Linked DNA regions of Homo sapiens. The protein of the gene in region 2 purifies or fractionates together with the protein of the main gene of each other region. This does not show direct contact. Each region holds a gene or a part of one and is shown on either strand. Other genes may lie near its edges.

Region 1 (4,018 bases), about 18 Mb from region 2:
TAATCAAATCTTTAAATGAACAAAGTGGTATTATAACGTGATTGGTTATGACATGACACTGGCTATAAATACAATTTACAAAAGCTATACAGTATTCACTTTAATATACATTTGTTAAATGAATTACCAAAATGCCAAGATTAGTCTAAGAAGTAAGGAACAAAAAAGGTCCTACCTTGTCAATAATGGACTGCATATGAGATTTGTGAGACTGGTCTCCATAAAGCAAAGAGGACCACTGGTCCGGTGCAATTCGTAAGCCTGCTTCCATAGCAATCTGCACTATCTGGGAGTCATGTTCTCGCCGCAGAGCTTCATAGGTTCTAAATTCTTCTTTCAGCTGCATCAAAGAAGAGTCTTCATCACGTTTGGTGACCTAATAAGACACAAATAATCTCATAATGAAGTCAAAAAAATGAGTTTATGCTTTATATGAACATATAATTTTTAATGTAACAAATTTAGCATCAACAGCAAGATTAAATGAATATACCATTTGCCTGCAAAATATTTTCTCCTTAACTTGTTGAGGTAGGTATATTGCTATCATCCCATTCTGAGTCAAGTTGGATTTAGGCCAACATTTTCTGGATAGGTCTTTCAGAAAGAATAAATACAGGCTGAGAATCTCTTACCCAAAATGCTTGGGCCAGAAGTGTTATCAGATTTCAGATTTTTTCAAATTTTAGAATATCTGCATTAAACCACTTGAGCATCCTTACTCTGAAAATCTGAAATGCCCCAATGAGCATGTGAGCATCATGTTGGTGTTCAAAAAGTTTTGGATTTTGGATTTTTGTATAGTCAATCTGTATGTGCTGGAATGAAATCCAAAGATTTGACATACTTTAACATATACATTCAGTTTAAGGTGTATGTGTGTGTATATGTATTTTTGAAAAGAAAAAAATACTAATACAATTCTATATTCTGAAAAACAATATGTTTCTTCTCCATAAATGTGGATTATGACTCTTGGGATTGCCTGACAATGAGCTAGGTGGGACTGATGACTGTAGAGCTTCAGATGCTGGTGTAATTCTAAAAATGATTTAATTTGTACTTGGCTTAATTCTTCATGGAGTTTTGTGGGATGGGCTACTACCAGAAAGTGTAAAGTGTGAGATGCTAGACTAGAATAATCATAATGATTATGATTAGAAGGCTGGAGGCAGGAGAATTGCTTGACCCAGAAGGCAGAGGATGCAGTGAGCCAAGACTACACCACTGCACTCCAGCCTGGGCGACAGAGCAAGACTGCATCTCAAAAAAAAAAGTCAGAAAAATAATACTGGATGTACAATAAATGATACATAGTGAGTAGCAATGTTTGAGGCGGTGCTTATTCAATTTGGGATAAGAGACTATGTCCAGCATTACCATATAAACTGAAATGGCAAATGGAACTTCATTATTGTATATGTGGAATTACACTAGGAGAAAATCTCTGAATAAAATTTATTTGGCTGGGCGCGGTGGCTCACGCTTGTAATCCCAGCACTTTGGGAGGCTGAGGCGGGCAGATCACCTGAGGTCAGGAGTTCGAGACCAGCCTGGCCAACATGGCGAAACCCCGTCTCTACCAAAAATACAAAAAGTAGCCAGGTGCAGTGGCCCTGCCTATAATCCCAGCTACTCGGGAGGCTGAGACAGGAGAATCGCTTGAACGCAGGAGGTGGAGGTTGCAGTGAGCCGAGATCATGCACTGCACTCCAGCCTGGGCGACAGCAAGACTTTGTCTCAAAAAAATAAAAATAAATAAATAAAATTTATTTGTGCTTCAATAACTCTCTCTTCAGACCAATTCTGCACAGTCTTGGTAAGAAATTGATATAGTTTCTTAGTCTCTTCAAATACAAAAATCTATAAACCTTGACTTGATCTATGTTGTTCAATATTGAACATACAAAAATTCAATATAATAGTATTTAACTATAATAAGACCCCATCTACATTCTTTAAAAGAATAAAGAAAAATTGCTGAGATTTTCTGAAAAGATACAGGCAACTTTATTAAACTCAAAGTTTTACTACTTAACTTTGGGGAAAGAACAATATTTCCTTTCAAGCTGAGCTTTAATGTAGGTTCATACCTTGAAACAGGAGGCTCTATAAAGGAGCTGAACAACATGCCCAATGCTAGTTTTAGAGGCTTGAGGAAACCGTGGCTCCAATCTTTGCACCACAAACAGAACCAATACTTTTCTTGACAAAGCAGAACCATCTTCTAAGGCCAGCAGAACCAACTTTAAAGCTTCCTCCTGCATTGCTAGGGAAAGTTGGGCAAAACCAAAATTTATCAAGTACATAGATAAGATAAATCCATTTATTAGAAGGGGAATATTTAATCATTTCTGCAGCTATTCAATTAACTGGCAATACAGTTAAGATTAACCAGCAACACACTTTTACACCATTTTTGTGAGCAATTTTGTATTACATTCTATATATTTTATAAAGAAAACAGATAAAGTGATTAATAAATTTAAGAAAAACTTCTATCAAAATGAATGAACTTCCTGCTACAGGTGTGAAAAAAAGGAAAAATCAAAAAATTAAAAAAAGAAACAACTTTTGGCATTAAGAGAAAAGTTTTAAGTTCACTAAGTTCACCTAGTAAGTCCACTAAGTTACATGGAATTGCCCAAGCCATGAACATCAAACAAGATATTAGTTGGTAACAATAAAATACTGCAAAGAACTAGGCTTTGTACATCACTTATAATTCCTACATCATACTTTTAGAATTACCAGCAGAATAAATACCTAAAGTTAATTATGTACCTGGTCCAAGGAACTGGCATCCCCTAGCCCTTACTGCTGCCCAAAGATTGGAAGAGAGTTGCTGAGGATTCTGGTGCTGGAGAATGAGCTCTGTAACTGTTCGTTCACCTAAAGATCGAGCTGCCCTCATGGCACGAATCCTGCCTTCTTCTTCTACTAGTTGACAGTGGACTAGAGTCACAAGCTTCCTCTGCATTGGGCGACTCAGAACACTCTGAGTAGTGCTGTTCAGACCCACTCCTTTAAAAGAGTAAAGAAGTTATTCCTAGGTTCACAATGCAATTTTACAGTCCAGGAGCAATTCTTCTGTTGGGTTAACTTGTGGGTATGTGACTAGTTCTGGGACTACTAGAGTATTTAAAATAAGCAACAAATAAAACCACACATGTAAAGCTTACTTAAGTATACATTTTTAAAGTATACAAATGTATACATGAGTTATCTCATGTGCACTTAGCATTCATTATGACATTAAATATACCATTACTCATTTTAATCATAGAGGAAGAAAGAAAAAAGGACTAGACAACATTGATAATTAGTTTATAATGTAAATCTTGAAGTCCTAAGAGTTCTGGTATATTATTTGACAGTGGTTAACCTTATTTTCCTAATTAAATAGCAAGCCCTTTCTGTGCAGTAATGGCAACTTCCGTATTCATTATACCGCCTATAGCATAGCATATAAAACTGGATAGAAGGCAAACCATTCAGAATTGTCAAATGATGGAAAGCACTGCTGAAGTAAGTAGTTATATTTGCTATTATCATCATTCGAATAATGTTTCCATCATCACATAAACTAAAAATTCACTATTTTATTTGATGTGGTTTGTGTCATGATATTTAGCACAAAATGAGTTTAGTTTACAATAGATAAATTTCATTAACATTTGCTTAATAGCTCACAATTTTTATGGTAACAAGTCTCTTTAGTAGACATTTACTTAGTATGGATAATTGCATCAAATTTACCTCTAGTTAGGTTTTTTGGGAATTCCTCAGGACTTATATAGGATTATGTACTGAGTATTTAAAAAAGCAGTTTTACTCTTTAAATAAGAAACAAAAACAAACTTACCTCTAGCACTGCTGAGCGGTTTTAAGTACAATGCTAATTCTTCTACACATTTCTTGGCTTCCTCATAATGCTTTGTGTCTTCAACCCCACTACACAAAGTAATAGGCTGCTGCTCAGGGACCTGGAGGCCAAAAGAAAAGATCTGTATGAGTG
Region 2 (4,261 bases):
TATGGAGGGTCACAAAACAGTGAACTCCCCTCTCCTACCATTTCTACTCACATATCGTTTGATGGGCACCTGGGTTCTGGCCGTAAGTTTTGGGTCCAAAAACTTAAATGAGAGCTAGGTATCTTTAGCGGTTGGGGTTGGGGTGAGGAGGACAGGCCAAGGCATCGAGTAAGAAGAAACGCTAGAGGCCTGGAGGTGCAAAGCTGGTGGTGGGTCTCTTCCTGGGTTCTGCAACCCCAAAGAAGCATCTCTTGAAGGGAAGACCCACTGGGCTTCACCTTCCTAGAGGTCAAACAGAGGAGCACTAACACTGCAGCAGGAGGAGGGAGGTTAGACAAGAGGGAGGACTTCCATATACTTGACTGAGGGGCAGGCTTATCTTTTGTGAATAAAAATCCCCTTACTTTTATGAGGGACAAGCCCATCTGATGCGGAGGCAGAAGAGGAAAGAATGACTCCATTAAATTCCGGGGCCTCCCAAGACCACCCCCACACCCAAGAAAAGATAGCAATGTCCGTCCCCACCCAATTCCAGGGCTTTGGATCCCCAGTTTCTGACAAGAGGAAATCCAACTTTCTAAATCAGAAATCTCAAGAGATGGAGTGCCCCAGGGGGATGAGGGCTGTGCAGGGGAGTGGCATCTTCCCCTCCTCCATTCTGGATCTCTCCGTGAAATCCCCCTAACCCCCAGCACTCCCAGTGGATAAGGTGGGATGTGGAGTAGGGGCCCCCCTGGCCCGCCTCCCCTTTTCCTCTGCCAGAAGCTGGCCTCCTCCCGCACTCCCAGCCGGAATGCAGCTCCTCTATTGTTCCCCACTGTGGGACAGCTCCTCCCCCACCCCACACCTCCCCAGCCCAGCCTCTTTGCAATTTCCAAATCCTGCCCCCCACACTCTCCTTTGAGAAGCCAGGAGAGGGAAGGGTCCCCAAGATCCCGTCTGCTCAATTTGGACCTTCACCAACACCCCCACTCACCCACCCAGGGATGCTGGAGCAGCAGAGGGTGTGGTACCAGACATACTACGCTGGATTAATTCTGCACCCCCTCCCAACACACCCAGACACACGCCCTCCACCAAATTTCCAGGTGAAGGTTTCTTACCCCCCAGCATTCCCCCTCCTACCCTGTCCTACTCTTTCACTACCAGAGACCCCTCTCTAGGCCTCTGGCCCAAGGCCGTGGCCAGCCCAGAACAAAAGCCAGAGAGGGAAGAGGAGAGGTCCAAGCCAGGACGTAGCACTTCCTTGGAGACACCCCTTCCAAAACCCCAGAGACAATCCAACTTTGGGGTGTGGGTGACCACAGGACCCCCTCCTCTCAGCAGCCCCCCTCACCGCCTCTTCCCCAGGCTGGGACCCTCCCCTGGGCCACACCCCCTTCCATTCCTACACTCAGCCCAACAAAGAGACAGATACTCAGTCTGGCTTCGAGGGCCAGGTCTCCCCCAAAGTCTGTAACTCCAGGCGGCTGGGGGCCCCAGGGATGCCCCCTCCCCAGCCTAGGAGCAGATACCAGAGTACAGGCTTCTGAGTAACTCTTTGCACATTCCGTCAGTTTTTCTGGTTAGGAGTGGACACCCCCTCAGGACAGCCTCCCTGGATTGGGAGACCGATCCCCTCCCCTTTCCCTCTTCCAGTGCGAGGATATTTCTTTGTCTAAAGGCAGAGTCCTGGGGGAGGAAGGATCTGGAGAACCGTCCCGACTAGGGGTAACGGGGAACTTTGTGGCACTTTGAAATCAGGGTAGGGGGCGGGTCCCCCTTTGTGGGGAAGGGACAGAGCCGGAGGCGGGCAAGAAGGGAAGAAATGAACTTTCCGCGCTAGGGACGAGGGTGCCCCCACTACAGTCCCTCTCAGTGGTCCCGGCGCCCCGCTTACCTTGCCTGCCCACGATCTCGGCCACGTGCTCGGAGGTGGGCACGGGAACACACTCCGTGGTGTTGCTGCTGCCCTTCAGGCGCAGCTCGGCCTCTTTGTAGAGAGCGCAGAGCTTGGCGTCGCTCGCCCCTTTGGGGGCGGTGGGGGGCTGGGGCGTCTGCGCTGCGGGGGCCGCCGTCGGGGCGGCCGGGGGCGCCGCGGGCGGCGGCGGCGGGGCCGGCTGCGGGGGGGCGGCCGGCTGCGCGGGGGCGCCGCCCCCCCCACCTCCCCCGTCCTCGCCCGCCGTGGGGGCGGGGGGCTCCCCCAAACCCAGGAGGCAGAGTTGATCGAGAGCCAGCTGAAGGGCGCGCTCGTCTTCCAGCAGCCCTCGGTCCTTAGCGCTTCCCCCGAAACATCCTAGTTCTCCAAAGCCCCCATTTCTTTCCATTATTCCAGATACCACTAGACTAGGCATGGCGAAACAAAAGCTGGGGGAGAGAGAGAGGGAGAGAGAGAGAGAGAGGTGGTGGAAGGGAAAAGAGGAGAGAGGAGGGGAGGGGAGAGGAGAGGAGGGGGTGTGTGGGGAGGGGGGAACAAAGAACTGGGGAGGGGGGAAGAAAGCGAGATAGAAAGATAGACCCTCCCCCTAAGCCCCCCTCCCCAAACACCCTGTAACCCGACTCCCCTCGCCCCAGCCCCCGGGGTGGGGGTGGGGGGAAAGAGAAGCAAAACCAAGAAAGCAGATCTCCTCTCCTCTCCGGGGGTGACGGGGGGCGGGGGGCTGCAGGATCTCTGCCCCCACCCCTCCCGCCTCGGACCTGGGAGTCTCTAGCCCCCGCTGTCCAGGCGCCCCCGTTAGGCTCCCGCACCGAGCCCCAGTCCGGGAGCGGCGCTCAGTGGCCCCCAATAGAGCCCAGCCCCTTCCAGCGCTCAAACTCTTTTGTTTTAAATGAACTGGATGGAGCAGCATGAAACTGACGGGAGGGGGGCGCGCCGGGGGCGCCCGGGGCATGCCGGGAGTTGTAGTTTCCCGCCCTTGGGGGCGCGGGGACAAATTCCTTGACCCGAGGAGGATAGGGATGTGGCCTTCGGTCTTTCCTCGCAGCTCCGGGGCAAGCTAGGAGTGGGATGGAAGTCGAGGTCCCTAATTTTTTAAGGGGAGGGTGCGGGGAGAAGGGGTAGTATGCGGAAACAGAGCGGGTATGAAGCTGGCTAACGCCGCGCGCCCCCTCCCAGGACCCGCTCCTGCCCCGCGCCGGCCGGTCCTGGGGGCCCGCTTTTTTATGGAAATGAGGAGGGGGGGCCGGGGCCGGGGGCGGGGAGCCGGGAGCCGTCCCCGCTCGCTCACTGCGGCTTTCTCTCTCGCTCCCCTCTCCCCGCTCCCTGCCGCGCTCACTCTCCGCTTCCCCCTCCCGCTCTCCCAGAGTCGATCCCGGAGCCCGGCCGCGGGGAGAGGTTCTCGGCAGAGAAGACAAAGCCCGCAGCAGCGATGGGGGGAGAGCTGGGCTCTGCGTGTTGTGGGGGCCAGGAAAGGGTGCCAGGCTGGGGCTGGAACCCCCTGGCAAAGGATGGGGTCCCCTCATCCCTAAACAGCAAGCCATCTCCCCTCGCCCGCCCCCCGCCCCCCCAGTCTCGGAGATCTCAGAGGCACCGACTGGGAGGTGAGTTAGTTCACGTCCTTCTGCTCGGTGGAGGGGGTCGGGAGGGCGGTGGAGTGATGAAGTGCAGAGGTTGAAGGAGTGCAGGGACAGAACTGGGGGTCGGACGGAGAGTGGGCAGGCAGGAAAAGTCTTAAAGGCCTGGGGTGACTTAACCGTTTGGGGTGAGGGCCTTGAGCTTTGGATATGACAGGAGGGAGGAGAGACCAGGATGGACTGGGAACCCAGGCTTCCTTCAGGCCTGGGCTGTGAATACAGCTTGGGGTGATCTGTCCTTTAGCACTCATCGTAATTTCCACTCTGTTTCCTCCACCTCTCTCCCATTGAAAACCTATTCAGGGCCGGGCGCGGTGGCTCACGCCTGTAATCCCAGCACTTCGGGAGGCAGAGGCGGGTGGATCACCTGAGGTCAGGAGTTCGAGACCAGCCTGACCAACAAGGTGAAACCTCGTCTCTACTAAAAATACAAAAATTAGCCGAGCATGGTGGCAGACGCCTGTAGTCCCAGCTACTCAGGAGGCTGAGACAGGAGAATTGCTTGAACCCGGGAGGCGGAAGTTGCAGTGAGTCTAGATCGCAGAGTGAGACTCCGTCCCCCCCACAAAAAAACAAAAACAAAACAAACAAACAAAAAAACCCATTCAGTCCCGTTTGACTCCGGAAATTCGGTGAGAATGAAAATAAGTTTTTAAGGCTTGGAGAGTTAGGCACTTTTAGAGTTTCAGGAAGGTGGAGTGTAATGCAA

What was found.
Region 1: the proteins of MEX3A (region 2) and RC3H1 purify together in Homo sapiens (affinity purification with mass spectrometry, with the first as the bait; one large-scale study listed by BioGRID). This does not show direct contact.

The regions. Positions count from the first base shown.
Region 1 is NC_000001.11:173,980,634-173,984,651, forward strand, and holds part of RC3H1 (roquin-1), read right to left. Parts: intron 3,987-4,018; coding exon 3,866-3,986; intron 3,025-3,865; coding exon 2,785-3,024; intron 2,270-2,784; coding exon 2,094-2,269; intron 377-2,093; coding exon 176-376; intron 1-175. UniProt on the Homo sapiens protein: Post-transcriptional repressor of mRNAs containing a conserved stem loop motif, called constitutive decay element (CDE), which is often located in the 3'-UTR, as in HMGXB3, ICOS, IER3, NFKBID, NFKBIZ, PPP1R10, TNF, TNFRSF4 and in many more mRNAs.
Region 2 is NC_000001.11:156,079,666-156,083,926, forward strand, and holds the start of MEX3A (RNA-binding protein MEX3A), read right to left. Parts: upstream 2,801-4,261; 5' UTR 2,334-2,800; coding exon 1,880-2,333; intron 1-1,879. UniProt on the Homo sapiens protein: RNA binding protein, may be involved in post-transcriptional regulatory mechanisms.